6 separate regions of the Homo sapiens genome follow, and all the other regions are linked to region 1. Evidence: fine-mapped expression QTL. A gene starts in region 1. Each other region holds a variant in brackets. All regions are shown on one strand. Distances are from middle to middle.

Region 1 (5,071 bases):
TACTTTATTTCAATATCCGTATAAAGCAGGAAAAATGGGTATTATTTCCTGCATTTGACAAATGGGAGAAACAGTAGTTACACGGTTAGCTCAAGTGATCACTGTTTAAGAGGTTTGTGGCAGCAACATCTAACTTTTAACTCACGAACATGGTTTTAAATGTCTTACATGAGAGATGTAAACAAGAATGTTTCATTTTCAAATAGAACACTTATTCCTGCATAATCGAGTCACCACCGTGGGGGCCACACAGCAGCCAGGGGTCCAAGTTTCCAGCCCCAGAGCTTTCCAGCCAGGGAGGGCTGGCCCAGGGCCCCTGTGGGGCTACTTGGCATCAGGTGTCTGGAGACCCGCCCCTGGACTCCACCCTCTTCACCCAAGCGTTAGGCACGTGTGGGCCGGAGTTTACACAGGAGGACCTTAGCGGGGCGTCTAAAAGAAGGGTGGCTCAGCAAACACGGGGCAGTGCGCCCTGGGATTCACAGTGGGAAGTGAGTGGCCTGCCTCGGCCATGCCAGCTGCGCCTGACCCTGTCGGGAAGGATTAGCTTTAATGAGGGGTCCGGACAGCCCATTCACTGCGCACTCCCACCCTGCCCCGGGAGAGCAAAATAACTTTCTCTACGGAGCACTCTGGTGTGTGTGTGTGTGTGTGTGTGTGTGTGTGTGTGTGTGTGTGTGTGTGTGTACACAAACATTTACTTGGTTGGCTGAGGCGGAGGGTGTGACCCAGTGGGCCACACCTCCCACCGCCCTACCCCGCTACGTGGAGGCGAGGAACAGTGGCCGCGGGCTACCGGGGCGCCTTCCGAAAAGAGAACCACTACGCGGCCCGCCGCCCCTCTGGCTGGACAAAGTGAAGCCGCAGGCAGATCCGAGTCGCCAATGTCCTCCCGGGCGGCTGGCGCGGACGGGGCTGAAGTTCAATGCAGCCTGCACGGATTAGGGAGCTCCGAGCCCCCAAATACCACAGAGACCCAAAGTACACTCCCGGGGCGGGGGAAGGGAACGGCGGCAGAGGAGACCCCCGCTCCAGGCCCAGAAACGCCCGGAGAGAAACTGGAGCGGAGGGGGTGCATTGGAAGACGCAGCTACACAGCTCCCCCCAACCCCCGCCCCGCTGCTTTCCCCACCCACCGCCCCTCCCCTCTCCTCCCTCCCCTCCCCTCTCTCCGTCTCCAGCAGCCGAGCGCGGGCTCCACCTCCCCGGAGCGCAGTCCACACCGTCCCTTTTCAGCAAAACAACACAACGCACCGCCCCCCGCACCCGCACCCGGCTGGATACCGGGCTACGCCCAGCCGCCCACCCGCCGCGCCCGGCGCCCCCTCTAGTCTGCAGCCGCCCAGCCCCCGCCCCAGGCGGAGCCCCAGCCCTGGCTGCACGCGGGCAGAGAGAGAGATTGAGCCCCGGCTCCGCCAGCCCAGCTCGGGCCCTGTCCCTCTACCCTTTCCCCAAGCCGCCCGAAGTGACAGGAGGGGCACGCACGGCGCGCGCGGGGCGTCCAGCGTTAACCGCTTCGGCGCCGGGGACGGGAGCGACAGGAGGGCTGGGGAGCAGGGGACCGAGTGCTGGGACTCACCGGAATGTGCACGCGCAGCGAACGCCTCTTCTGGCTGGCATTTTTCTTGCCGCCGCTCCCGCCGGGGCTGGAAACATCTTTTTTCTTCTTGGTGTCCATAACCGCGCTTCCCATAACTCTAACCAGAAGTTGATTCTGCGAAACTCCTCGGGGGTTCGGTCCCCTCCTTCCCTCCCCCGGCCGCTGCCTTCGGACTGGAGCCGCGCGCTCTGTTACACCCTGAAGCCACCTCGTGGGGACTTCCGCGGAGAGGGAGGGTGAGCAGGGAACTCGCGCGGCCGCCGCCGCCGCCGAAGCGCCGAATTCAAGCGTCCTTTCCTACGGAACCCTCGTAGGCAAATCAGTCAAAGCCCGTCCCGGTTCTGGTGTCTCCCCGGGTTACTCGTGGCTGAGGTCTCCCGCTGGGTGACAAAGTTTTCTTCCTTTTGCAAAGCTAAGAAACATTTTCCACCCTCTCGGCTCCTCCCACAGATTCCCAGAGGTAATCTGAAAGGCAGGTGCAATTAAAACCAGCAATTTGGAAAACAAGCCTCCTATGCCTGTGCCCAAGTGGGGAATCTGGAACCAGTAAGCCCGTTCGTGCATAAATGTAATCCTCGGCCGCAGAATAAACCAGCTCGGAGCCTGCAGCTGGGTCCGTCCTCCTTTCTGGGCGAGAGGGAGGGCGGCGGGGGAAGAGGAGGTGCAAGGCGAGCCCTCTGCGCAATTAGGCTACGGGCGGCCGCTGGCAGAAGTTCTGGCGGCGGCGCTCGCGGCCCTGCGCGCCGGAGGGGGCGCCCGGAGTCCAGCGGGCCAAGAAGGGCAGGGCGCCCGCTCCTCGCCCCCCGCCGCGCCGCGGCCCCAGGGGACCGCAAGGGGACAGTGAGGGGCCGGGCCTGGCACCGACGCAAGCTCGGGGAGCGCGGGTGGTGGGAGGCGGCGCGTGTTGAACAGGAAGTGCGCGGCGTGCAGCGCCACCGTCCCGCTCCCCGTCGCCCCACGCCGCCCTCGTCGCCGCGCCCAGACCCCTGCGGCGGCCGCAGCCGCTTGGGACTCGCTGCGAGCTGGTTTCGGATCCATCCCGCCTCCCGGCGTCTCACTGTGTGCCCTACCCTTTGAAACACGCCCCCGCGCCCGCCCTGCCGTAGACCAGGCAGCGAGGAAGCCCACAGTCTCCGGGGGCGCTGCGCGCGAAGTAGCACGTGCTTCTCGAAACACCGCAGCCCCCGGGTCCCGCCCCGCCCGGCGCGCGCACTCGAACCCGCCCAGAGAGCGGTGCGTGGCGCTGGGTGCGAGCAGGGTCTAGCCACCCCCACCCTCACCCCACCCCACCCCACCCTGCTTTTTTCAGGTTCATCAAGGTTTGCGCAGTGGATCCGCGGTAAGTGCGTGTCCCCACGCCGCGGGAAACGTGGGGCTCCTGAGACTGCGGAAAGAATTGGGAGAAGGGGAGGGCTCGAAGACCCGGGCGAGGGTTCCCGGTGCGGCCCAGGTCCTTTAGAGCCCCGGGTGGGCATCCAGTACCGCCTGCTGCCGAGGGCCCTAGAGGGGTTGGGGGAGGGGGCTGGTGTGTCCCCCACCCCCAGATGCGCCCCAGGATGGCGCGACCTCGGCTCCCTGGTGGAAAGTAGGGGGAGTGCTGGCTTGGGGGTCGCTTCCCCTCCTGCTCTAGTTTCTGAGGATGTGATGACCCCAAAGGTCATTGGCGCTCCCAGAATGCTGACGTCAGCTCAGCCGCTCCGAGTAATCAGTAATGCAGGGAGGCCACCCGCAGAAAGAACGCGACAGGGGTCGCTTTGGGGACACCATAGGGCCTTTACTCCTTTTGAGGTGCGTGCTTTCGCAGGACTCCCTCCCCAGAGGAGGAGGCATGATCAGCCCACCCAAAGGATCATCTCTTAGGAAGCAGGCGTGCGCCCACGCAGGGAGAAGCATCCTTCCTTTCAGCTGCTTGCCGGGTGGCTTTTCCAACCCGAGTTCCAGCAGCTTGCACAAAATCCTTACAGCTTGGGTGGTTCCCTGGCTCATAGGGGTGGGTTTATATTCTTTCTCCTTCTCCTCTGCTCTCTGGTCCAGAATGAAGCCAGCCTGGAAGATCCCCAGTCTCGAGACAGAGCCTGACAGGGGCAGATGCACTGGAAGGACCCTGTCTGGGTTTAGCAACCAAGCAGCCATCCTGGCCCCACAGGTGTGGGACTTCTGGGTCTTCTCCTGGCTGGCTTCTTGCTAGAGGATTTCAAGAGACCCAGCAAGACTGTATTGTCCCACTGAATGCTCAAGATATTGGTTAGAAGTAGAAAAGGGGAGGGGGTAGTATTTAGCCTCTGTCCCCACTAAAAATTATTCCCAATTGTCATTTGTGTCATCTGTTTAGCTTACAGTTTTAATCCTTGTCAAAATGATCATTTGCCAGGGTGCATAAAACACCCTATTTGATGAGAACTGGTTTTAAAGGAAAATGGGGCCATCAGAAGGAAGCCGGTTGGTGTGAAGAGACGTCTGGGAAGAGCCCCTGGCGAGGGCCCTCATTCCACTGGGTGACCCAGAAGGAGAAAACCGCGATGGCGCTTCTCATTTGAAATGTTTTCTTTATGGACAGTGTTTAGCAATTGTTATAATGTGTACTTTTGTTGATTGATCTGTATACATATGTAAAATAATTTGTTCTCTGAGTTAATTTTGTTGGAACAAAGACTTTAGTGCTTCCTACATTAAAACATTTTACTGTATTGCCTGCATTTTAAGAGCCTTTTTTTAATTTTTAATTTTTTTGGTCCTTGTGATATGACGAGGTATAAATTCTGGGTTTTGTCCAGGGTTCCTGGCTTAGCACTCTCGTCGCCCTCATCACAGTCTCTTGTTATAATGTTGGGGCGCTTTAGGCCTCAGACACCCCAGGAAACAATCTCCTCTGAACTTCCCCTGCCCTCCTTCACCACCTCACCAGCCCAAGGCAGGACTCTAATCCTCCCTCATCTTTCTGATTGTGGGACTTAAGACCCTCTATTCAGAAGGGGTCCTGCCCCATTCCCGAGAGGAAGAAATCCTGCACGGAAAGGCCAATAACGGTCGGAATAGGCAGGACTTGTTTGGGTGTCCACACTTACTCAGTCACTATTGGATCATACCTTTTTGTTCGATCACATTTCTGCATGGTCGTCAATCGTGTCTGTCCAATGAAGTCTCCTTAAGAAGCCCAAGAGGTCTGGGTTTGGGGGCTTCTGGATCCCTGGACATGTGGAGGCTGCTGGAAGACGGGGTGCCTGGGAAGGGCATGGAAACTCCGTGCCTGTTCTCCCTGTACATCCCATCATCTGTGTTCTTGGTAATATGCGTTATAATAAACCAGTAAATGTACATTTCCCTGAGTTCTGTGTTCCACTCTAGCAAATTAATGAACCTGAGAGGGGGTTGTGGGAACCCCAATTGAGAGCCCAGCCTGTCGGTCAGAAGCTCCGGATGCCTGGACTTGCAACTGCTGTGCGAAGTGGGATGGGGGTGGGGTGCCTTGGG
Region 2 (5,071 bases), 81 kb before region 1:
GGGGAGGTGCCTCTGGACAGGCCGGCCTTGCGCAATCCCCAAAACCACCAAACGGGCAATTCTTGGTACTGATGGGCGGCAGGAGGTGACCAGAGCCAGGTCAATTGGAGCCTTTGAAAAACATTCATGTTATATAACCACTCTCAGAAAAATAAGGAACAAATATTGAATCACTGGAACCAGGCAGCAGGGGAGGGCCAGTGGCCAAATCCGGGAAGGCCTAAGCTCCACTCTCAGAGAAGTTCCAGAGCCATTTACTTTCCACAGAGGACACCGTAGTTTCTCACTACAGCCTAAGCAACTTCCTGATGTCAAAAGAAACATCCAACTGTTTTTCACTCCTATGGCCACCCTTCCTCCCTGGCTCCCTCACCTGGTGGTCCTGGTTCCCACAACCGCCTCGGGGCTCCCCTTCCCCGCCCCCCAAGGCCAAGGACCCTGGCCTGGCAGCCTGAGCCTCCCCTGGCTTTGAGGAAGTCCCCTGCTCCACCGTATTCCCAGTTCCTCGTCTGGCCCGAGGCCACCCGGGGCTTCCCTAGCTCCATATCAGCACCAGACATGAAACTCTTTTTGCTCAAAACCAAGTAGCTGCAGAATCCCTGGCCCGGAGTGCCCAGGAGACCTCGACCCTCCCCGCAGTTCTGCATTCACGTCTTATGTGGAGCACGCCCTTTAAAATCCAGGAACCTCCACTTTCCAGTGTGTAAAAGGAGGCCATCATCCTTCTTATCACGGGCTGGTGGGAAACGAGACCAGAGGACGTCATCAAAGGCCCTTCCCGCGGTGTGAGCCCCCGTGGCACTGGGCATGGCGAGGGCCGCTGGCCGAGGGCACACTGGGGCCTGATGATGAAGGCTGTGGGGAGCAACAAAGGCATCATCACCAGGGCAGCCAGGCCCCTCATGCGGCTCCCGCGGAAGCCAGGGCAGTTGCTCACACTCAACCAAGGCCTGAGATCGGGTTTCAGAGGCTTCTGCAAAGACACTGGCTGTCCCCCTTATAATTAGAGAGCTGTCTTTATCCCGTTCCCAAGGTGAAAGCCAAGATGATTCATGACTTGTGCACGGCAGTTCTAAAGAGGATCACAGCATGGCCGCTGCCAGAGTCTCCGGCTCTGTCCTCGTGCAAAGGGCAGCCGAGCCTTTCCTTGCCCACTCCGGGCAGCCTTTACTTGACCAGAGCTCCATGGAAGCTTGGAGGGACCCCACTGGCCTCCTCACGTTGTGGTGGAGGATGCTCTGCAGGGGCCAACAGTGCCTCTTCTGACCAGCTGGGGGTGGCCATCCTGACCGTCCTGACCTCAGGGGCTTGTGCTGTGGGATTCCTGAGAGCCCCTTCCTAGTTCAGGGCCCCAGGGCAGCCTCTTACAGGCAGCTGCTCCCAGGCCAGGTTGAGTCCAGCCTCTGCTCATCACACATGCTTGTCTTCTTCCAGCCTGTCTGAGATCCCCCAGAAGGAGGGAGAGTGGGGGGCAGGGGCAGCACCTAGAGGGACAGGTTGGGTGGAGGCTACAGGAGTCTGGGTCAGCTCCCAGTTCATGAGGAAGGAGGCAAGTACCTGGGAGGCCCCGGGACATGCAGGTTGGGGGGCGCATTTGCATGGTCTGTGCAGCCGTCTCCTCGAGGACCAGCAGCAGGCAGCCTCCCAGCTCCCTTCCAAGGGTGTGGCCTGGGCTGCAGGTTGCCGCCTCCATCCGGAGTAGCTGCGGTCTTCACAGGTGGCACTGCGGGCCCCAGCCAGGGGGCAGGGGAGGGGATGTTATGGGACAGGGAGCGCTGGGCTCCACTGACCACATCCCATCGTGGAGTCAGTAACGGTTAATTTGATGTGTCAGCCTGGCGAGGCCATAGCACCCACTGATTCAATCAAATACCAAGCAGGTGGCTGCCGTGGGCGTATTTGCAGACGTGGATGACATCTACAGTCAGTGACTTGAAGTGAAGCAGATCATGCTGAATGATGTGGGTGGGCCTCCCCCAATCCGCAGCAGGCCTGAAGAGGGAAAACAGAGGGTTCTGGAAGGGGAAATTCTGCTTCATGATTGCAGCATCGACTGCCTGAGCTTCTAGTCCGTCTGCCCAGTGGATTCGGGACTTTCCAGTTCCGACCAACGCATGAGTCAATTCTTTCAAACAAATCTCATATATATATATATATATATATATATATATATATATATATATATCACGATAATATGTATATGTAATCATGTTATATACATTATATAGAGTTAATATATTATGTGATTATATCTCAATATACATATTAAGAAAAATATGTATATTAAGGAGATATAATCACATAATATATTAACTTAATATATTTTCTTAGTATACATATATTAAGAAAAATAGGAGATCTATATGCTTGGATCTCTAGTCTTGGTTCTCCTTCTCTGCAGACCCCTCCTAACACAGAGCCCTAGGCCCCCTCACCCGAGCTGGTGGGGACAGACATGGGGAGAGTCCAGGGTAAAAGCAGGCCGCTGTTTGGAAGCTCTCAGCCTTCGCTGCATAGACGGATGGGTCTGCTCAGTCATCGGGTGGGCTCTCCGCCCACACTGTGGCTCTCTGTCCACACTATGGAACCCTCACTTTGCCCAGGGCCCAGTGAGACACCCACAGGCCCCAGCTGGACGAGAGGACAAAGACGGATGTGAAGGGCCGTTGTCCTGGCAGTGCTTAGAGAACAACAGGAAATGGCCAAATGTCCTCCTTTGACTGTCAGGGAACATTCACAGTACGTGAAGGGCAATCACAGGTTTAGAAAAGCACCACGATCACCTCCTAGCCTCGTCTCTGAGCCTTGGCAGCAGAGTGGGGCAATCCTCTTGCCTTCGCACGCTGGGTAACAGTCGTGCAAGTGTCTGTCATGGCATCTTGTCACCCTGTCCTGTCACTGAGGGCCTGTCTCCTGCCACACCCAGTTGGAGCTCGGCAAGGACCGCGTCTT[T/A]TTCACCCCTGAGTCACCGGCTCCTCCCAGGGCTGGATTCCATGAGCCTCTGTCCTTCCCCTTCGCAGAGCTGACACGGGGAGAGTGGTCATAAGCTGGGGCGTAAATGACTGAGGACGGCCCGGGGGCCAGTAAACACCAAGACCTCGGGATAAGGGAATGACATCCTGATGCGCCACCTCCAGCCCCTGTACGGAGGGAACAGCCCTTCATTTCTAGGACTGTCTTCAGCTCTGACATTATGATTCTACCAAGACAGGGTGTGAAAAGGCCAGCTCTGGGGTTCTGGGGAGGTTTTATTGGCTCGCAAATAAAATGCCAAACCACCAGCCAATACCAGCATAGAGCCCTCCGTGGGCACTACCGACTCAAGGGAAAGGCCCCGAGGCCCCACACCCGGCCCGGCCAGCCAGCTGCAGACACACCCTCCAGTCATCGGCCACCCAGACTTCAGAGAGGAAAAAACCAGCCACGAGGTGAAAGTGAGATGGCCCCGGCCTGACCTCTGCTGCAGAGGCCCAAATGGCCCTGGTCAGATCTGACGCTTCCCCCACAGTCAGCTTCTTGCCACCCCCCCCACCCCCCACCGCCGCCTGGTGCTCCCCACCGGGTACACACCCAGCGGTTTTGGTTAGTGCTTGAAGACAAACTGCAGGAGGGACACCATGAACTACAATAAAATTGGGCACCCTGGGGACATTTTTGTAAGGTCACCGAGTTGCTGGCTGGCTCTGAGACACACCCTCCTCTACGTAGAGGACCTTGTGTGAGAGAGGACACCTCTGAACGAGGGCTCAGAGACCTCATTTCTGCTCCCAAACAGCTACCCAAGATGTGGCTTTGGGCTTTGGCCCAGAGCTGAGGCCTGCAAAGGCTGCCACCTCAGTGCTTCCAGAATCTCAACTGTCCATATTTACAGAGCCATACATCAAAAGATTCTTCCCCAACACTTTCTACGGGTACCCAAGGACTCCTTCTACTCCATCTTGTTTCACCCACCTGCTCTGTGCCAGGCACATTATAGATCAAAAGGTACAGGGAGTTCAGAGGAAGGAGGAAATACCATGGACTTAAAAAGCAAGCCAGGGCTTCCCAAGCCAAGCATAGTGAATAGAGGAGCTTTCATTTGTCTCCTCACTTCCATCCCGGGGTGAGCCGGCCACTCCCGCAGCATCTGGCCACGGCTCTTCACACTGACAGTCCCAACTTGTCAGTGGATTATGAAATCAATTTAGTGGATTGCACAACCACCAAAAACTGAATTACAATAAGAATGTATCTCATGGTTGCATGAAGCCTGTGTCTCAATGATTCACACACACATAGAATAAAATGTACTTTGTTTGTTTGTTTGTTTTTTCCCCTGAGACAGAGTCTTGCTCTGTCATCCAGGCTGGAATGCAATGGCACAATCTCGGCTCACTGCAACCTCCGCCTCCTGGGTTCAAGTGATTCTCCTGCCTCAGCCTCTGAGTAGCTGAGATTACAGGCGCCCGCCACCACGCCTGGCTAATTTTTGTATATTTAGTAGAGATGGGGTTTCACCATGTTGGCCAGGCTGGTCTCAAACTCCTGACCTCATGATCCACCTACTTTGGCCTCCCAAAGTGTTGTGATTAGAGGTGTGAGCTACCGTGTCCGGCCTGTTTTTTTGTTTGTTCGTTTTTTGTTTTTTGAGATGGAGTCTCACTCTGTCGCCCAGGCTGGAGTGTAGTAGCGCAATCTTGGCTCACTTCAACCTCCGCCTCCCGGGTTCAAGCGATTCTCATGCCTCAGTCTCCCAAGTAGCTGGGATTACAGGTGTGAGCCACCACGCCCGGCTAATTTTTCTATTTTTAGTAGAGATGGCGTTTTCCCATGTTGTCCAGGCTGGTCTTGAACTCCTGGGCTCAAGGGATATACCTGCCTTGGCCTCCCAGAGTGTTGAGATTACAGGCATGAGCCGCTGTACCCAGCCTGAATAAAATGTACTTCCTATTGTGTTGTGGGTGAAAAAGTCTGAAAAATTCTGCATTAGATAAGCTTTGAAATCATGCAGGTAGATTTCAGGGAACAGAGAAGAGCTGACCTTCTGTCCCCGAGGTGTCACCAGAAGTGTGGAGCAAGGGGTACCATCTGT
Region 3 (5,071 bases), 200 kb before region 1:
GTGTCTCGCTCTGTCACCCAGGCCGGAGTGCAGTGGTGCAATCTCGGCTCACTGCAACCTCTGCCTCTGGGTTCCCACGGTTCTCATGCCTCAGTCTCCTGACTAGTTGGGATTACAGGTGCCCACCACCACGCCAAGATAATTTTTTGTATTTTTAGTAAAGACAGGGTTTCACCATGCTGGCCAGGCTGGTCTGGAACTCCTGGCCTCAAGTGATCCACCCACCTTGGCCTTCCAAAGTGCTGGGTTTACAGGCATGAGCCACCGCACCTGGCCTTGTATTCTTATAAGAAGGAAATTGGGATGCAAAGAAAGACAAAGGGAAGATGGCTATGTGAGAACGGGACAGAGACTGGAGTAACACTGTCACAAGCTGAAGCTGGAGAAGGCAAGGAAGAACTCTCCCTAGAGGCTTTGAAGAGAGTGTAGCCCTGCCAACACCTTGACTTTGGACTTTTGGCCTCCAGAACAGTGAGACAGTACATTTCTATTGTTTTAAGCCATCCAGTGTGTGGCACTATGTCATGCCCCAGTGACATGCGACACTAATGTGACAACTGAATGGAGTGGTTCCAGCCATACAGGTAGACCCAGGGATGTGGCTCTCACAGTGTCGCTGGGCACGGGAATAATACTGGGTACCTGCGGTAATTAAACCAGCAGTGACAGCTGGGGTCTCAGTAGGGCCCACTGTGTTGAAACAGAGAGTGCTTAAGTGCTTAGTGAAGCCACGGAGATTCGCTGCCTCGGTCTCAGGAAGTGCTGGAGGCTGCACACGTCTGTCGCTCCATCCCACTCCTCTATGAAATGCTCCCCTTCCAAAGAGGGCATCCTAAGTCTGATGATGTCATCAGACTCAAAATCTTAAACCTCTAGAATAACACTTCTGTTTTACTTTTTTTTTTTGCTTTACCTATGACATTTTATGAATACTGTAGTATCCCAAGCAAGGTAAATTCAAATAAAGCTTTCAATGAATGATTTTTAAGAAGCTGAGGGGAAAAAAACCTCCTCCTGGTCATGTCCCAGATGTTACCATTTTTCATTTTGTTTCTTTTTTTCTTTTTTTTTTCAGACAGAGTCTGCTCTGTTACATAGGGGCTGGAGTGCGGTGTCATGATCTCAGCTCACTGCAGTGTCTGCCATCTAGGTTTAAGCAATTCTTATGCCTCAGCCTCCCGAGTAGTTGGGATACAGGTGCACGCCACCACACCCAGCTAATTTTTGCAGTTTTGGTAGAGACAGGGTTTTGCCATGTTGGCCAGGCTGGTCTCGAACTCCTGGCCTCAAGTGATCTGCCTATCTTGGCCTCCCAAAGTGCTGGGACTACAGGTGTGAGCCACCGCACCCAGCTATTTTTTGTGTATTTCCATTTGCTATTGTGCCCTCACCATTTCTCCCTCAGCCTGTGATTTATGGTACAATATCCTGAAGATGTCGGGAGCACACGACCTCAGCCTCGGCTGCAGATAGACTGCTCAGCTTGGGGCAATAACTGCTCTGCCCTCCCTCTGCCACCCGGCAGCCCCACCCACAGAAGGGCCCAGACTTACGGCTTTGGAGGGAGCATAGTGTGTCGGTGATGCCAGTGGAGGCCTGGTCGGGCTCTGGAAGGAAGACGGGCAGAACCTCTGCCCTGTGTCCGGGGGGGAAGACGAGGCATAGATGCGATTCTCTAACCGTTCAGGCTCGTGCTTATAGGATTCCAGGGGAAACGTGTGCTGCTTGGTCACTTGGGTGGGTGTTGACGGAGAGGAGGAGAGGCCGGAGGCTGCAGAAGAAACACCAAGGACGGTCAGAGGTCCGGCTTCCAGGAAGGGACGTCGGGGGTGGTCAGAGGTCTGGTCTCCAGGAAGGGAGATGGGGAGAGGTCAGAGGTCCGGCCTCCAGGAAGGGACGTCGGGGGCAGTCAGAGGTCCGGCCTCCAGGAAGGGACATTGGAGGTGGTCAGAGGTCCCGCCATGGCAGAGGGAGGCTCTCACCATTCCTGGTGCCCAAAACCTCAAATGGCAAGAAGCCAAATTATTCTGAATGTTGAGGAAAAGCTTTAAAAACCAATTTCTAGTCTCTTAGAATCAGCTGTTTCCAGAAACGCCTCACTATCCACGCTCGGTTGTGGGCAGCATCCCCTCATTGGGAACGGGGTGCTCACACGGTCCCGAGTTATCTGGTGAACTTTTACACACACCCTCCAGAGGCTATTTTCCTCCATTCAGCCAAATATCATTTGATCTCCTCTCCTTCTTTCCCCAGCATGGCGCCAAGAGCAAACGCAGTGGTGCCTTATTTATTGAGGTAAAACATGGGGAAGTTCGGAAAATGTGCAGCAGAGATGCAGGCCAATGCTGCAGAAGCCATGGGACCATGTATCTGAGGAGGGGGAGGGGGAGGGGACGGGAGGGGAGGGGAGGGGAGGGGATGGATGTGTTATTCCTACCAAAACGTGCAACATGAACATCACCACTGTAAGTTCCCAGTAGCAAGACTTCACTGCGAAGATAAATACCCAAGGAGACTTCAGGGAAAGGGTGGGACTGGAATGGGGTCTAAAAAGTGAAACAGATTTAGATGGTCAGGAAAAGGGAGGGGGCAAATAATGGGAGGGGCAACGGTGTTAGTGGAGGATTGTAGGAAGACTGGAGACATGAATCTTCTGGGAGTTAAAGGTTCTCCACTTTGACTTATTTCTAACTAACAGAAACAACTCTATTTCTTCCATAGACTTATTTATGTAATTTTTAAGTGGCGAGTGTACACCTAATTCATTACCATGGTGCTTTTGAAAGCAGAGCTGGAGATGCAGAGGCTCGTCAAGAAGAGGTTAAATAAATCATGGCACAGTGCACAGGTAGGATGTGACCTGTGAATGTGACCTTATTTGGAAACAGGGTCTTTTCAGATCAACCAAGTCTAGATGAGATTTTGCTGGACTAGGGTGGGCCCTAATGCAATGTGACTGGTGTCCTTATAAGAAGAGGAAAAGAGACACAGAAACGGATACCCAGAGGGAAGGCCTCGTGCTGGCAGAGGCAGCGATCGGAGCAATGCAGCTGCAGCCAAGGCGCG[A/C]TGGGGATTGCTGGCAAACCCAGAAGCCAGGGCGAGGCAAAGAGGAATCCTCCCCTACAGGTTTCAGAGAGAGCGTGGCGCTGCCAACACCTCGATTTTGAACTTCTGGCCTTCAGGACAGGGCTAAATTTTAGTTGTTTTAAGCCACTCAGTCGGTGGCACTTTGTTATAACAGCCTGAGGAGACTGATGCAATGCATGGATTGTGTTCTAAGAGAAGCAGAATCTGGCTTTGGGTCTGATATCTCAAATCTCTTTTTCTTTTTTTTTTGAGACAGAGTTTTCACTCTTGTCGCCCAGGCTGCAGTGCTGTGGTGTGATCTCAGCTCACTGCAACCTCTGCCTCCCGGGTTCAAGCGATTCTCCTGCCTTAGCATCCTGAGTAGCTGGGATTACAGGCACCTGCCACCAGGCCTGGCTAATCTTTTAAAAATATTTTTAGTAGACATGGGGTTTCACCATGTTGGGCAAGCTGCTTTCGAACTCCTGACCTCAAGTGATCTGCCTGCCCCGGCCTCCCAAAGTGCTGGGATTGCAGGCATGAGCCATCACACTCACCCTCTGATATCTTACATCTTACAGGTAGAAAAATAAAATTTTAAAATAAAATTTGAATTATGCAAGTCAAACCAAAGATGTCAGTGAACATGCCCTGTTAAATTACATGTAGCCTAGAGCTGCCTCCTTAAATATTTTAAGTTTGGCCTAAAGGGTTTTCTGTACATTGTGAACTGTAACAGACCATAGCCTACATTCGTGCCAGCCAGAGTTTTGGCAATCACATGTAGCCAACTGTTCCAACCGTGTTCAAGTAAGACAAATGCTGAGCTGTAACCAATCCAGGTGTTTCTGTGCCTTACTTCCGCTTTCTGTGGTCACTTTCCTTTTTCTGTCCATCAATCTTCTTCCACCACATGGCTGAGAGCTGGGCTCTCGGAGTCTACTCTGGCTCAGAAGGCTGCTCGATTTGCGAATCGTTCATTGCTCAGTCAAACTCCTTTAAACATAATTCGGCAGACGTTTTCCTTTTATCAGGTCCTAGAGCCACCAGTCACTGTTTCTGGTCTGGACAAGGCTGCGTCACCTACAGAGCCACAGGCCTGGTTCACTCTCCCCAGGCATCTCTGCTGGGTTCCTCCTCCTCGCAGCTCCCAGAACCACCCGTGTCCCTCCTGCTCCATCCTCATGGGGAAGGACCTGTCCTCCTGTCCCTCGTGTCACCAAACTCATAAAGCCTTTTCACTGTCCTGTATGTTACCACTTAATGACAAACTGTTTAACGTTCAAACCAAACATAAAAGTATGTAAGTCCCCTCTCCCCACCAAGATCTACCGTCTGTCTTGGGGACGGGGGTCCTGCCACTCCCTCTGGGCCCCAGGGCACCCAGTGCTGTCCTGAGCCAAGGGGTCTGGCAAATGCCTGCTGCCACCAGGCAAGGAACAGAAAGAACAGTGAGAGGACCGGCTCAAGGTCAGGGTGAATCTGTTCCTCTCTGTGGAGAGTGGGGCGCATGTTTTGTTTTGTGTGTCCGGGGGAGGTTTAGGAAGTCACCTATTAGAGAAGGAGCCCCCTTTTCCAGGGAGTCCCTTCAGGAGACTGAGCAGTGTGAGTGGAAAGCCCTCTGGAAGCCCCGGGCTGGCACTTGGGAGGCAGCTCTGGGTGGAAGCAGGAGGAGAGGGTTAGGACCCGAAACTTAAAATGTAAAAGGCCCTCACAACAAAGTCCCAAACTCTTGAAAAATAGAGGCCAGGTGCAGTGGCTCATGCCTATAATCTCAGCATTTCAGGAGGCTGAAGTGGGTGGACCACCTGAGGTTAGGAGTTCAAGACCAGACTGGCCAACATGGCAAAACCCCATCTCTACTAAAAATACAAATATTAGCTAGGCGTAGTGGCGCGCGCCTGTAGTCCCAGCCACTCCAGAGGCTGAGGCAGGAGAATCGCTTGAACCCAAGAGGCGGAGGTTGCAGTGAGCTGAGATTGTGCCACTGCATTCCATTCCAGCC
Region 4 (5,071 bases), 160 kb before region 1:
CCCACGCAGCATCTTTTTACACCTCCTCTATGCCTGACCTTGGGAGTGGGGGGAAGGGGCTCTGATGTGAGGGTCGTCCTGGGCCAGACTCAGCTTCTGCTACATGGAAGCAGATGCCAGGCAGGAGGTCCTGCCTTCCAGAGCAGACACTATCTTAGTCATCTTGGGCTGGCAGAACAGAGCACATAGATGGGGTGGCTTACGTAACAGAAGTTGATTTTCTTACGGTTCTGGGGGCTGGAAAGCCCAAGGTCACGGTGCCAGCCCTGTTGGTTTCTGGTGAGGACCCTCTTCCTGGCTTGCAGACAGCCGCCTTCCCATGGTGGTGGGTGGAGGGGGGGGTAGAGCTCTTCCTCTTCTTGTAAGGCCACAGTCCTATCAGCTTACAGCCCCACCCTTATGACTTTATTTACCCTTAATTACCTCCTCAAAGCCCTATCTCCAAATAAGCCACATCGAGGGTCAGGGCTTCAACGTATGAATTCGGGGGACACGATCTGGTCCACAGCACGGCACGAGTCCTCCAGCTGCATGCAGGTCATGGTGGCTGTGCCCAGTGCCACGTGGGCCTCCGTGTCCCCGCTCTGTAAGTCATGGTGGGCTCCTCTCGGAAACCCACCAAAGTCCCCAGTAAAAGTGCTGAGTAGCTCATGAAGTCCCCAGGATGCAAAAAAAAAAAAAAAAACCCAAAAACAAAACAAACAAAAAAACCCAGGTTTTTTTTGCATCCTGGGGACTCTGTGAGCTATTCACTGCTTTTAATACATTTTTGGGATCCACTACAACCAGCCAGAATGAATCTCTGGGCCCGTAGCTGACTGGAGGGACCCCTTCCATGGAGTCCAAAGATGACGGCTCAATGGGATTCTCTCATTCTTGTCCACCAAACCAGAAGGCAGGTCTGCCCACCTCCCCTGGCCCTTCTGTTCAAGAACTGGCTTCATCTCTCTTCAGCATCGGCCTCTGAGACCTAAAGGGCTGCCTGTTTCCCTGTGTTCCTGAGGGTGCCAGCCTGCATCTTGCCAAGTAGTTTCTTAGACTCAGATGATTCCTGTTCTCTCTGTGCTCAGACTTTCCAACCCACCCACAAACATTCATTAAGCCCCTGATAAGTACAAGGCCCCGAACTCAGGGAAATGGAGGGGACTGAAGGAGACGTGTGCCACCCTGTTCCCCGAGCGTTGCTCCGGGAGACGAGATGTATCTTGCAACCAGCTCAGCGGTGGAAGCAGTGGAAGTGCAGACAGAAAGCCCCATGGCAGAAGGGAGAGAGGTCCTGCCCCACTCCCGGTCTCTGCAACATGCTTCCCGGCCCCGGCACGCTCAGCCCTGGTCCAACTTATCATACAAGTTCTTGGGCAAGTGGGACTTTATGAAGGAGGTAGTCACAGAGACCCACCGCTCAGGCCTCCTGCTGGGGGAGCTGGGCTATAACTTCCGCTTCCCCCTTCACACAGAGACCATGCTCCCAACCCACCCCAAACCCGCCAGCACCCTCAGCCCCTGCCCTGGGCTGCTCCCAGCCAATGCCTAAGCGCCGGGTGCTGGGTCACCCTGAGACTCTCGCTGTCCAATCTTCCCTGCCACCGTGGCCGCAGGGGTCAGAAAGAAGATGCCCCCTGTCTTCTGCCTCCTACCCTCATCCTTCCCGGGCAGTTCCCCCAGTGAGTCTGGTGTGTGTTGAGTCCTGTCCTGGCACCTGCCTCTCAAGGGACCTGCATTCCTGCCTGGGTCCCGCCCACAGCACCACTGTCTTGCGATGGGCACTGTCACTCCCACCTGGCTTCCCAGAGCCTATGTGGGCCTGGCACCCTGATCTGTTCTCAACAAGAAACTGGAGCCTGCCCCTCCTCCCCCTGAGTTTGCCAGGCAGCCTGTAAGTTGGGGCTCCAAGTAACGCCTTCCCTGGCCCCTGTGCCTACTGAGGTAGTTCTGTTATTTCACTGAGGCCGCCACATTCAATCTGCACCTTCCCATGGAACTCTCCCAATTGGCTGTGCTTGCTCTGCCCAGGTCCAGACCAGGGGCAGCTCTGGCCCAGTCCTGGGCTCCTCCAGGTCTGTGAGCACCCCCAGGGGATGTGCTTAGGTCAGGGTGAGGCCTGGCCACTAGCACTGGCCCAGGGGCGAGCCCTTCCAAGATGGTCCAATCAGAATCAGGGAAGGGCCCTCATTCCACAGTAGGGGGAAATGCCCTTTCTTCTTTCTCTCCCTCCAGATCATAAACCTACAAACTCCTCCAGTGGCTGCAGACAGCCGTTTGTGACCACAAGGAAAGGTAGTGGAAGCCCAGATGGACACAGAGAGAAAGAACACAGACTTGCTGGTCTGGGACAAGCATTGTTGTTCAAGCCAGTTCGCGTTTGAGTTTCTGTTACTTCCAGCCCCAAAAGCACCCTAGATAGGAGAGTCTACCTAATACAGCAAGACCATGGCCCTTTCCAGAAAGGGTGGAGGCTGCTAGCTCAGGAGGTCGGTCTATAGGCAATTAAATCTCTGTGGGTGTAACACAGACTGTGTTCTTACTGCTATTTGTGGAA[A/C]ACAATTTTCTTAAAATAGATAGAACAGACCTTGACACCCTGAAGTCAAGCACTGACAGCCTCTGTTTTGAAAACAAAGCACCGTCAAGCTCTAGAAAATGCATGCAGGGCTCCAGAGCCCGTCCAGATGAGCAGAAATGGCAGAGGGGGACAGAGGGGGATGAAGGAGGAGAGAATGGAGGGGATGGAGGGGGATGGAGGGGATGGATGGGGACAGAGGGGGATAAAGGAGGACAGAGAGAATGGAGGGGATGGAGGGGGATGAAGGGGGCAGAGGGATGGAAAGGGATGGAGGGGGACAGGGGATTGAGGGGAGAGAGGGCAATGGAGGGTTTGGAGGGGATAGAGGGGACAGAAGGGCATGGAGGAGAATGGAACGGGAGGGAGAGGGTCAGAGGGGATGGTTGGGGACAGAGGGTAGTGGTGGGGGGAATGGAGGGGGATGGAGAGGGATGGAGCGGGGTAATAAGGGCAGAAGGAACAGAAGGAGATGGAGCAGGCAGAGGGGATGGAGGGAATGGAGGAGAATGAAGAACAGAGGGGGGTGAAAAAGGACAGACCAGGGTGGAGGGGCATGAAGGGGGCAGAGGGGATGGAGGGGACACAGAGGGCAGAGGGGGACAGAAGGATAGAGGATGTCAGAGGGCTGGATGGGGCAGCCTGGCCACCTACCCAGGCATGGGAGCCAGAACCCTGCAGCCGCCCAGCACTCAGGCTTTTCTGGGGTCCCATCCCTGCAGCCACCCATCCTGCATCCTGAAGCGGGGGTCCTGTCCCCTCTCTGCATCTCGAAAATGCCCCTTCCTGCTTCCTCTGCCATCTCCTCGGTCACTCTGGAGCTGCCTTCTGCCTACAACTGGAGCTCTAATGCCAACAGGAAAGGGCTGAAGACAGGGCCAGGGCCAGGGCCGGGGCCAGGGCCGGGGCCGAGGCCAGCACAGCGCTATGGGGCCCAGCTGGGGTGCCTGAGGGCCTGGCTCCCCAGAGCACGTCCTCCCTCCAAGGCCTCTCATGCAGAACCGAGGGTGACCAGCCACCTCCCACAGGAGGCGTGCCACCCCTCTGCCCCATGGTCACCTAATGTCCCCCTCCAGGCCTGCCCGTGACAGTGGGGGACATATGCTAGGACCCCCTGGGGCAGTCAAGGACATTCTACCCTGTTGGCCAGGGAGCAGCAGGGTAGGCCCCTCTAAAATCTGAGTAGAGATTTAGTTTGTCTGGAGAAGACAGATGTTTTGGCCTCGGATATTCACAGTGTCAGGCCAACGTCCCATCAAGCATGTACCAGCCAATTATGTTTGCTTTCATAGACGTTATCTGGCCTTACCATTCCTCTCTGACCCAGGTCCCTTAGTTCCCATGGTGACTCTGTACAAACACTACACATACTCCTTGTCCTAGATTCTTTCCCCTTATCTGCCTATCCCAACCCTGCTACTCCCTCGAGGCCCAGTTCAAGGCCACCTCCTCCATGCAGCCCACCCTGACTACTCCTTCCCACACAATCACCTTGCAGAATTCCTCAAGCGTGGCTGTGGCATTCTGTCTTGTGGGTGAGCTGGCTATTGTTTCCTGCATGTGAATATGATGGATGTTGTAGAATCCTCCTGGCATAGCTCCTAGTGCCCACAGCACAGTGAGCCTGTAACCCGTATTTCTCATTAGTTGGCTCTCTCATTTACCCCCAGAGACATTCTTTACAATGCAGGTGTAGACTCAGATGTGACCAAGACTTTGCTATCTTATAAAAGGGGTTCAGCCCATTGCAGTCTGGTTTTCCTAGCACCCTTCCTCCTGACGAGCTATGTTCAGGGGAGCGTTAGTTCGTTACCTGCTTGACATGGCACTGCCTGCCAACCTCACCTTAGGAAAAGGGTAAATAAGTTTACAAACATTAGGATGGGTGAAAGCAGCCATCTTTCAGCCAAGGATGTCTTGCCATTGGCATCCTTTCCTCTCCTACTCTTGGCATCAAAACTTCCAGCGAAAGGACTACCATCACTTACCCCAGCTCCCTCCCCAGGGGTCTCCTCGTGGAGCTCATCTCTCACTGAGGAAAGAAGGGCTCGGCTTTGATAAAGGAATGCTAGACTTTAGCAGGTGAGTGGCGGGGGTAGGATCCTGTCTATTCTCCAGAAATGCCATGAGACTCCCGTGGGGACACACGGACATGCAGCCCCATGCTCTGCGAGGTTCGTGTGCAAGGGAAGCCGAGAGTGTGCACCGCCGCCTCCCCACCATCAGCCAACAGCTCAACACCGATTCCCAGTCCCGGCTGTCACAGGCACTTCTTATTATGGATGTGCTACTAACACACAGCAAAACTGATTAGATAGGCACAGGCCCGGCAGGTCCCCATTAAAGGACATTCTTCCCTGCCCCAGAGGCCTTTTAATCCTCCAGCTGCTCCCCATTTCTGAGCACCCCAGCCCCACAACCACATCCTTGGCTCCTCTTTTCTTAGGTCTCTGCCTCCCAAAAAGTGGAAAACGGAAGGCTGCAGACAGGAAAGACATCCCCTGCAGCCTGCCC
Region 5 (5,071 bases), 240 kb before region 1:
AATAAATAATGGAAGCACACAAGACAGTGTGAACGCCTTTTCAAGTCCTCGAATTGTCAAGCATCTTATATAAAGTTCTTTCCCGACTCTGAGCTCATCACATTTCATTTTACATATTAATTTTGCGTAAGAGCAAGCTCATCCCGTTCAAATGTTAACAGCTTCAAAATAAGATCCTGGTGAAAGCTCGTCACATTCCATTTTAAATATTAATTTTGCCAAAGAACGAGCTCATGCCTTTCAAATGTTAACAGCCTCCAAATAAGATCCAAGTTATTTACCTGTAAGATACAAGAAGAAGACAGGAGAGGGAAAAAAAACAACCAAGTGAGAGGAGAGGCGACAGAAATGACGGAGTGAGAGGGTCGCCTGAACTCAACACCGATTCAATAACCTCTTCAGGTTTTCCTATTTAACTTTCCCCATTAAAAAAGAAGACACACCCTACCGGTCATATCTTCACAGGCGCAGATAAGGGCACCAGTCTATGATTAAAGGGTCTGGACTGTGGGTATGATTCGGGGTTGCCTCCGAGTGCATGGTGACAAGCACAAACAATTAGCGCTCCCTGACACCTTGCTGTAATTCGAGTTCGGCGAGTAAGGACAAAAGGGCCGCCCGTCCGTGTGGATGCCGGGCTCAGGGCTGCGCTCTGGGAGCCTGGCTCGCGTCCCCTCCGCGGACGCCCGGTACCCCGCAGCCCGAGCTCGCCGGCGCCCGCATCCCCGCCCCGGTTCCCGCCCCGGCCCCTGGGCTTCCGCAGGACGCAGCTCGCCGTGGGGCAGCGCCGGAGATGGGGCGCGGGGTCCCCGCGGGTCCCGGTCCTCGGGCGGCCGGGCCGTGGGAGCGCCGGGCCGGCAGCGGGCGGGGCGCACTCACCTTCGTCCTCGAACTCCAGCTTCTCCAGCATGCCGGCTTCCGCGGGTCCCAGGGCCGCCGCCAGCGCCGCCTGAGGGGGAGGAGGAGGACAGCGATCAGCATGAGCTGCGACGCTCGTCCCCGGCCGGCGGGCTCGCGGCCGGCCGAGCGCTGGGGCCTGGCTCTGCCGCGCCGCCGGGAGGAGGGGCCTGGCAGGGGACGCGGGCAGCGGGGGCCGGGGGCGGAGCGGGAGCGCTGCCCCCACCCGCCCGAGGCCGCCGCCGCCGCCGCAGGTGGCGCGGCCGCGGCCCGCGTGCCCCTCCGCGAGTGGGACGCGCCGCTCCCCCCCGCGCCTTGGTACGGCCCGCCCGGGAGGAAGCGTGGGAAGGGACCCGGGAGCTCGAGGGCGGCAGCGCCTGGGCCCGGGGCGCCCCCCTCCGGCCGTGGCCCGCGTCCTCCCCGCCGTGCCGCCATTGGGAGAGGCCCGCGGCCCGCCCCCACTCCGCCCCCCGGCGCCGCTCACCTTCCCAGCACCGGCGGCCGCGCTCGGCAGGCTCCACCTGCGCAGGTGTGGGCTCCGCGGCGCGGGGAGGGGGAGAGGGGCTGGAGGCTGCAGAACGCCCCGGGGCGCCAGCTAGGGGATCCTTTCTCGCTTTCCTCTTCCCTTTCCAAATTTTAGATGTAACTGCCCATCCTCGGCCCCCTTAACAAAAATCGTTCCGTGGGCTACACGTATTGTAGATGCACTTTGTCGCTATCCATTTTTTTTTTTCCAGCATGGAACTCTTAATTCGCGTCCTCTCTTCGCAGCCGAGTGTCTTCTCGGTTGGGGAGCCGCTGCCAAAAACGTACACACCCTGAATCTGGCCCTGGCCGCTCAGGAGCTGGGTATCTGAGACTCTACTATGGCCAACTCAGGTTGGCAGGCTGCGCGGCCAGCAGCCGCTAGCCTCCTGGAAGGGCAGGACAGGCCGAGAGGGGACTGAGGTCCCTGGCCCCACGGCCCATCCCTGCAGAGTGCACGGGCGCCGCGAATGCGATTAGCTCCAGTACCGATTAGGGCTGAAAGGAGCTTGGCCCTAGCGCTCTTGCAAGCCGGGCCTGAAAGAGGAAGTCCTGAAAATGCCTCTCGTTTAGCTTTGTCATCTTACTTGCGCCAATCCCTAAGTCTTAAACCTCTTAAAAAAAGAAAAGGGGTGGGGAGAGAAAAAGAAAACAAAACTAAGATGTTTCATGGTAAAAAGCTACAGCAGATA[C/T]CATACTTCATAGTGAAAGACTGTTTTCCCTATGAAGTTCAGAAACCAGGCCAGGGTGTCTGCTCTCACTAATCCTATTCAACATGGTTCTAGAAGTACTAGGCCCTGCAATAAGGCAAGAAAAGGAAAGAAAACGCATACAGATTGGAAAGGAAGAAAAACACCTGTGTAGATAACATGTTATCTACATACAAAATATCAAAGAATCTACAAAAGAAAGAAAAAACTCACCTGGAATTAGTGAGTTTGGTAAGGTCATAGCATACAAGATCAACACACAAAAATCAATCACATTTCTATAAACTAACAATGAACACATGGAAAAATATATAAAACAATATCACTTAATACAATCACTTCAAAGAAAATTAATACTTAGGCATAAACTCAAGAAACCATGTATAGTAGCTGTATGCTGAAAATCACAAACTGTAGATGAAAGACGAGCTAATAAATGGAGAGACAGTCCTGAGCTGGAAGCCCCAACATAGTAAAAATGACAATTCTCCCCCAGATTAATCTTTTGGTTTAATGCAATTGCTACCAAATTAGGGTTTTTTTTAAAGACATAAATAAGCTTATTCTAAAATTTATATGGAAAGGTGCAAGCTCTAGAATTCTATTTATTTATTTATTATTTTTTTGAGACGGAGTCTCGCTCTGTCACCCAGGCTGGAGTGCAGTGGCGCAACCTCGGCTCACTGCAAGCTCTGCTTCCTGGGTTCACGCCATTCTCCTGCCTCAGCCTCCCAAGTAGCTGGGACTACAGTAGAATTCTTTAATCTTGAAGTCGCTTAATATTAAAGCAAACTATATAGATACAGCAATCAAGACAATGGTATTGGCAGAAGAATGGATATAATAATCAATAGAAATAAATAGAAAACCCAGAAATAGACCCATGCAAACATGGCAAACCAATTTTTGATGGAGGTGTAAAAGCAATAGAACTGGAGTAATTGGATATCAAAAGGTAAAAAGACAAAAACAAACCCCAACCTAAGCCTTGCGTTTTACACAAAAATTAGCTCACATTGGATCGTGAACTTAAAACTATGAAACTTTTTGGAGAAAATATTTGGGAACTGGGGCAAGGCAAAAGTTAGACTTGACACCAAAAACACAGTCCATAAAAGGAAAAACATAAATGGACCTCATTAAAATTAAGAATTTTTGCTCTGCGAAAGACCCTGTTAAGAGGATGAAAAGAAAAGCTACACAGTAGGAGAAAATACTTGCAAATCACATAGCCAACAAATTACTAGCACACTGCCTATAGGGTTAGCCCTGCTCTCCAAGGAATAGCAAAAATAAAATAAAATAAAAATGTCTGGAATACATAAACACTACCAATATTAAACAGAAAATGGAGAAAATAATCCAATTAGAACATAGGCAAATGACACAGAGCTGTTTCACCAAGAAAGATATACAGATGGCAAATTAGTGCATGAAAAGATGTTCAAAGTCATTAGCCATTATATAAATGCGAATTAAAACCACAATGAGATACTACTACACAACTGTTAAAATGGCTAAAATCACAATAGTAACAACATCAAATGCTGGTAAGGATGTAGAGAGACAGACAGGATTACTTCTACACTGCTGGTGGGAATGCAAAATGGAACCACTGTTTTTTTTTTTTTTTTTCTTTTTTTTTTGAGACAGGGTCTCCCTCTGTGGCCCAGGCTGGAGCGCAGTGGACCTATCTCAACTCACTGCAACCTCTACCTCCCAGGTTCAGGCAATTTTCCTGTCTCAGCCTCCTGAGTAGCTAGGATTACAGGCACATGCTACCACAGGTCAGCTAATTTTTGTATTTTTAGTAGAGATGAGGTTTCACCATATTGGTCAGGCTGGTCTTGAACTCCCGACCTCAGGTGATCTGCCTGCCTTGGCCTCCCAAAGTGCTGGGATTACAGGCGTGAGCCACTGTGCCTGGTCAGGAACCACCACTCTTAAAAACAATTTGGCAGTTTTTTATAAAACTAAACATGCAACTACCATGTAACACATCAGTTACACTCTTGGGCATTTATCCCAGGGAAATGAAAACTTACATTTACACAAAAACTTGTACATGAATATTCATAGCAGCTTTTTTGCAACAGTGCAAACGAAATAACAGATGTCGTTCAATGGATGAATGGTGAAGCGGGCTGTGGTAGGTCCATCTATACCGTAAAATACTACTCAGCAAGAAAAAGGAAGGAACTACTGACACATACAACAACTTGGATAGATCTCCAGGGAATTATGCTGAGGGGGAAAAAGCCAGTCCTAAAACGTCATATACTGTATGATTCCATTTATATTATAGTCTTGAAATAAAATGGTCGAAATGGAGAACAGATTAGTGGATGCCGGGGATCAGGGGCTGGGGTAGGGGGCCAGAGGTGCCTATGGCTATAAGAGGATAATGTAAGAGATCCTTGTGGTGACCGAACTGTTCTACATCTTGACTGTATCAATGTCAATATCCTGCTTGTGATATCACCCTGTATTTTTCCCTATGAGTCAGGCCAAGCTGATTTAATTCTGTGGAGGAAATGACAATAAATTTTTTTTTTTTTTTTTTTGAGACGGAGTCTCGCTTTGTCCCCCAGGCTGGAGTGCAGTGGTGCCATCTCAGCTCACTGCCAGCTCCACCTCCCGGGTTCACGCCATTCTCCTGCCTTAGCCTCCGGAGTAGCTAGGACTACAGGCTAATTTTTTGTATTTTTTTTAGTAGAGACTGGGTTTCACCGTGTTAGCCAAGATGGTCTCGATCTCCTGACCTCGTGATCCACCCGCCTCAGACTCCCAAAGTGCTGGGATTACAGGCATGAGCCACCGCGCCCAGCCAAAAAAATCTTTACTGAAATATAATTCACATACCATAAAATAACTCACCCATTTAAAGTGTGCAGCCCAGTGATTTTTGGAATATTCAGAATTGTGCAACTATCTAAGTT
Region 6 (5,071 bases), 220 kb before region 1:
GCTCTACTGCTCTTTTTGCCTCCTGCTTCTGTTTCTCAGAAAAATAGAAAATTGACTTTGCTTTGTTCAGGGGAGTCCATGGCATGTCCACCACTCCCATTTAAGTCAGGTTAACAGGGTAAATGCTGACGATGCACTGAGTCTACTGGTTCTAAAAGCCCTTTGTATTTGCTTTACCACCTTATAAAAAGGCATGGATCAGTATTTGTGTTGACCTTGAGGCTTTTCTTCTCACACCACGCAGATATCTTAACACAGGGGTTCACACATGGTGACCGGGCAGACAGATGCGTGTGAAACTAATGTGTAGACTAAATGCAATATACAGTTAATGCCTGGTGGGAAACAGAATTTTCCTTTAATTGCCCATTTGTAAGATTGAATAAGTAGGCAGGCAGAGTGTAAACACAGCCCCATCTATAGACGTGTGTCTTGGGAACAGAAAGGATCACACATTCTTAAGCTAAGACAAAGGCTTTAGTTTGAAGATAATGTCTTTGATTATTTCAGCATGGAGGGCTATAGATAGCCTCTTGGAGGCTCCGCTAGAAAAAATTCGGAATGGATTAAGTATATATTTTCCCACTAGCTGTGTCTGAACACATCACTCACGGCTCATGCGAAATTATTTCTCTGCCAGGCGTGGTAGTGCATGCCTGTAGTCCCAGCTACTCGGGAGGCCGAGGTGGGAGGACTGCTTGAGGCTGGGAGTTCGAGGTTACAGTGAGCTATGATCATGCCACTGTACTCCAGCCTGGGTGACAGAGTGAGACCCTGTCTCCAAAAAAAGTTATTTCCACAATTCATTCCTACATTCCGGAAAAGAATAAACCATATTAATACCACATCCCAATGCTAGTATTATTAGATCTGAGTAGTGAACACATAGACTGGTATTCAGAGATTCCCCAAATCAATCTTTAATTGTTAGACATAATAAAAGTGAAAGGGCAGATTCAAGTCCAGGAACGTGGACAGATCTTAAGAAGGAAAATCTCCTTTCTTTCAATCTCCCAGCTTCTCAAACCCGTAGCTGAGTCTTGAGCAGGCAAATGACTCAGAAACGTTTATGGTCTCCCTGGTACTAAAGTACTGTATACTTAGTTTCTTAAAAGAATCTGATTCATAGTGAGCCATTCTACTGAAATTGCACGATTTGTATCCAAATAGCAATACAACCTCTATCCAATGGCTTTTGGTATATAATAAATGCTCTCCAGGCTATATGTAACATTCGTTGTTTACTATATTAGAACCAGTAGTTTGCTTTATAATTTGAATTGTATAAAGCAATACTTATACTGTGTGTCTACTAGATTTTATGAAAATAAGACTTGAAAAGATGACATTCCTCCAACAATGAAACCATGTAAATTGAAGACAGGGACCTGATTATACTATTAAGTGAAAAGCTAAGTTGCTGAACAGTCTCTAGCAGGGTCTACATCTGTTATCTGTCCATTTCTGTATTTGTGTATAAAGGAACAACAAAAGTTAGACGAAAATGTGACACCGGAATTTATCCATTTGTCTCAAAGAGGCGGGATTCCAGGAAGTTTTAATTTTCTTTTTTATGTTTTTCCTTTTATAATCAGAGGAATGTCATTTTTAAAAGGTTTGAGTTGTGGTGTAATACACATAGCATAGTTTGCCATCTTAACCATTTTTCAGTAGACAGTCAGTAGCATTAAGCATGCTCACACTGTGGTGTAACCAATCTCCAGAACTTCTTCATCTTACAGGAATGTTGTTTTTAAAAGAGAGAACCAAATACTTCTCCAGATGTATGTGTTTTGAAAAATCAAATGCAAAGTAAGTAATGGCTTAATCAGACCGAACCACCATAATTGAATAGCCTGACCAATTCGTGAAAGAACTAGCCATGGGCCTTTCACTGTCTTTTTTTGTTTTTGTTTTTGTTTTTCTGAGACGGAGTCTTGCTCTGTCACCCAGGCTGGAGTGCAGTGGTGCAATCTTGGCTCACTGCAACTTCCGCCTCAAGCAATTCTCCTGCCTCAGCCTCCTGAATAGCTGGGACTACAGGCACAAGCCACCGCACC[C/T]GGCTAATTTTTATGTTTTTGGTAGAGACGGGATTTCACCATATTGGTCAGGCTGGTCTTGAACTCCTGACCTCATATGATCCAACCCCCCACCTTGGCCTCCCAAAGGGCTTTTGATTCAGCACATGAAGAGGAAATCACGGGCAGAGCTGTAGAAATCGTATTAGAATTTCATCTGTGTAGTTCCTTAGAAAGCTTTTCATTGAACCACCTGTTTCAATTTCCATTTTTTAAAAAAATAAAATATACCTCTGTCTGTAATCACGCTACGATGAGCAGCTGACATTCTTACTCAGGACTTAGAATAATAATGCTTTAGAGTCCTGCACGAAGCCTCCAAAAGAGTGGAAAAAATACACAACCCTTCGAAACAGGTTTACTCAAGCACGGTGAGAGAGGCTGGGCGGTCATTGATTAACAGGGTATGCGTTCCTTCTCAAAGAGATGGCAAAGGAAGCTTGTTCTAAACTTTTCCACCATTTCAATGGCTACTTTCTCCTGAGTCATTAAGGGAACACTGGTATTAGGTTTTGTGTCACAGTTGTACCAAGGATACCTCGCCAGCTAAAGTTAATGCTTTTCTAAGTGCTTATGAATTAGGGGACAGTCCCGGTTCTGAGCTGAAGGAATTCTCATCTAAATGCAAATCAAGACAAGCCTGTCTAGGATGCATAAATAGGTACAGTAATTTTTCCACCATTTAATGTTCAGCCCCCCAAATGCATTTTCACACAACTCTATTGGTAAAGAAGTATCCCTTATTAGAATTAAACGACATTTGCTTTCTTCCCCGCACCGGCTGTTACATAGGTAGAAAGTGTTCAGAGTCTTGATTTGGTTGACTTAAGGCATGGGAAATAAAATGGACAAAGAGAATCATTTTCCTAACCTCTGCTTCTCCACATCAGACTTCTAAATCCACGTCCGTGCCATTTCTATTTGATGTCCCAAAGGAATGAAAGAAAATGTGCCCCAGATGGAACTGAGGTTTCATCCCAGCTCTACTTCTCCGTCCAGTGTTTTTCTAATTTAATGACACTGTCATCCTTCCTTTCATGCCAGAAACTGGAGAGTCCCCCTAGAGTCCTCTTCCCACACGCCACATATCCAGGCTGCACTTTTATAATGAATTCCTTCCTCTGAATCTCCACTCCTGTGGCTGTAATTCAGCCTTTTGTCACCTCTCACTGGGCTACTGCAGCACTTTACTGGTTTTCTGGTTTAGTCTTTTCCGCATAAATTCCAGCCTCTAGCCTGTTACTAGAGTAATCATTCCATAAAATGCAAGTCTGTTGCTGGGCGTGGTGGCTCCCAGCACTTTGGGAGGCCAAGGAAGGAGGATGGCTTGAGCCCAGAAGTTCAAGACCAGCCTGGGCAACACAGGGAGAACCTATCTCTTCAACAACAGAAAAAAAATTAGTCGGGCATGGTGGTGTGTGCTGGTAATCCCAGCTACTTAGGAGGCTACTCAGGATAGCTTGAGCCCAGGAGTTTGAGGCTGCAGTGAGCTATGATCACACTCCAGCATGAGTGACAGAGGGAGAATCTATCTCTAAAAACAAACAAATACATAAAACACAAGTCTGGGCTTGGCACAGTGGCTCACACTTGTAATCCCTTTGGATTTGGGATTACTTTGGGAATCTTTGGGAGGCTGAGGTGGGTGGATCACCTGAGGTCAGGAGTTCAAGACCAGCCTGGCCAACATGGCAAAACGCTGGTCTCTTCCAAAATTTAAAAAACAAAACAAAACAAAAAAACGACACAAATCTGAACAAGTCCCTCCTCTGGAAATCATGGCAAGGGAGGGAAGGGCAAGTTTATGCTGTTTGTCTGTGCCACTTCAAATGTGCAGCCCTTCCTTACTCAAGGAGGTTAAGGGGAAGAACAAAGACCCTTCCACCTTCACTTTATGTTACTCCAAATCTCCTCAATCAGCCCAAAAGCAGAGTGTGTAATTCTATAACGCTCTGAAGGCAAGGAGTATAATCTTCAAGTCCTAACTCTGCTGGATTATTTACCACTTGGCCAACATTTTCTTTTTGTTTTTGTTTTTCAAACAGGGTCTCAGTCCTCTCGCCCAGGCAAAATCATGGCTCACTGCAGCCTCGACCTCCCAGGCTCAGATGATTCTCCCACCTCAGCCTCCCAAGTAGCTGGGACTACAGGCGTGCACCACCAGCCCAGCTAATTTTTTGTATTTTTAAGAGAGATGGGGTTTTGCCGTGTTGAGGCTGGTCTCGAACTCCTGGGCTCAAGTGATCTGCCCACCTCGGCCTCCTAGACCGCTGGGATTACAGGCGTAAGCCACCACGTCTGGCCCACTTTGCCAGCTTAGTGGCCAGTCTGATCCTCCTTAAGGGCAGGACAAATAACTAATTCCACTGCCCTCTCCAGTGGAATGCACTCCACGTCTTTAGTGAGGCAAAGCACTACTGTTTGTCCCTTGCCTTTCTGGGGATGAGACTCAATCTGCCCCTTTGCATTGGATGTTCCAACAAGCAACTGGCTAGCAGTATAAAGGGAAGCTCTGGCACAGATTAGTCACAGATTGGCAAACTTTCTGAAAAAAGCCCAGATAGAAATATTTCGGCTTTGTGAGCCATATAGTCTCTGTTGCAGCAACTCACTCTGCTGTTGCAGCATGAAAACGGCAAGGACAATAAATAAATGAATGCACGTAGCTGTGTGCCAATAAAACTTTAATCACAAAACCAGGTGGTGGGCCAGACTTGACCCATGAGACACCATGTGCCAAACCCCTAATCAGGTATATGAGCTAAGATGCTGCGTCAACCTTGGATCAGCTGAGAATCTCGGATCTCTCCAGAGGTGACGGACAACCATGCTGAGAACACGGATTCTGGAGCCCAGCTGCCTTGGTTCAAATCTTGGCTTTAGCGTTTGCTAGCCATTGAGCCTTTGGGGGAGTAACTTTACACAATTTTATCTCATTTGAGCCTCACAGCAACCCTGTGAGATAAATCCGATATTCCCATTTAACAGAGGCC

Which allele goes with the higher level. Alleles are on the strand shown, and positions count from the first base shown. SD is a standard deviation of normalised expression in the study named. Not every link is listed here.
With allele T in place of A in region 2, the expression in monocytes after Pam3CSK4 of the gene that starts at base 2,188 in region 1 is lower (moderate effect, 0.57 SD a copy in Quach 2016).
For the expression in skeletal muscle of the gene that starts at base 2,188 in region 1, allele C in region 4 goes with a higher level than allele A (small effect, 0.36 SD a copy in FUSION).

The links. PIP is the estimated chance that this variant, and not a neighbour inherited with it, causes the effect.
Region 2: its variant is fine-mapped to the expression of PRKAG2 in monocytes after Pam3CSK4 (Quach 2016, PIP 0.95).
Region 3: its variant is fine-mapped to the expression of PRKAG2 in nasal epithelium (TOPMed, PIP 0.95).
Region 4: its variant is fine-mapped to the expression of PRKAG2 in skeletal muscle (FUSION, PIP 0.95).
Region 5: its variant is fine-mapped to the expression of PRKAG2 in whole blood (TOPMed, PIP above 0.99).
Region 6: its variant is fine-mapped to the expression of PRKAG2 in whole blood (TOPMed, PIP 0.92).

Annotation. Positions count from the first base shown.
Region 1 is chr7:151,874,928-151,879,998 of GRCh38, forward strand. It overlaps PRKAG2 (protein kinase AMP-activated non-catalytic subunit gamma 2), which reads right to left and starts at 2,188. Exons shown (of 16, transcript NM_016203.4): 1 at 1,580-2,188. The coding sequence starts at 1,693. It overlaps PRKAG2-AS1 (PRKAG2 antisense RNA 1), which reads left to right and starts at 2,115. Exons shown (of 3, transcript NR_038926.1): 1 at 2,115-2,213; 2 at 2,910-2,939; 3 at 3,635-4,296. RefSeq lists an enhancer at 931-1,050 and silencers at 1,241-1,380, 1,441-1,490, 2,253-2,682.
Region 2 is chr7:151,793,706-151,798,776 of GRCh38, forward strand. The region is part of intron 1 of PRKAG2 (protein kinase AMP-activated non-catalytic subunit gamma 2); the gene reads right to left. Among named protein-coding and RNA genes, the nearest start is that of PRKAG2-AS2, 10 kb to the right of the region's middle. RefSeq lists enhancers at 402-1,299, 1,844-1,983, 2,244-2,826, 2,827-3,408. The variant T/A (reference allele first, on the strand shown) is at 2,953.
Region 3 is chr7:151,673,867-151,678,937 of GRCh38, forward strand. It overlaps PRKAG2 (protein kinase AMP-activated non-catalytic subunit gamma 2), which reads right to left. Exons shown (of 16, transcript NM_016203.4): 4 at 1,554-1,771. Among named protein-coding and RNA genes, the nearest start is that of PRKAG2-AS2, 130 kb to the right of the region's middle. The variant A/C (reference allele first, on the strand shown) is at 3,067.
Region 4 is chr7:151,717,945-151,723,015 of GRCh38, forward strand. The region is part of intron 3 of PRKAG2 (protein kinase AMP-activated non-catalytic subunit gamma 2); the gene reads right to left. Among named protein-coding and RNA genes, the nearest start is that of PRKAG2-AS2, 86 kb to the right of the region's middle. RefSeq lists an enhancer at 2,925-3,446. The variant A/C (reference allele first, on the strand shown) is at 2,540.
Region 5 is chr7:151,631,190-151,636,260 of GRCh38, forward strand. It overlaps PRKAG2 (protein kinase AMP-activated non-catalytic subunit gamma 2), which reads right to left. Exons shown (of 16, transcript NM_016203.4): 5 at 880-949. Among named protein-coding and RNA genes, the nearest start is that of RHEB, 110 kb to the left of the region's middle. RefSeq lists silencers at 404-503, 654-1,523 and an enhancer at 1,894-2,243. The variant C/T (reference allele first, on the strand shown) is at 2,115.
Region 6 is chr7:151,659,278-151,664,348 of GRCh38, forward strand. The region is part of intron 4 of PRKAG2 (protein kinase AMP-activated non-catalytic subunit gamma 2); the gene reads right to left. Among named protein-coding and RNA genes, the nearest start is that of RHEB, 140 kb to the left of the region's middle. The variant C/T (reference allele first, on the strand shown) is at 2,061.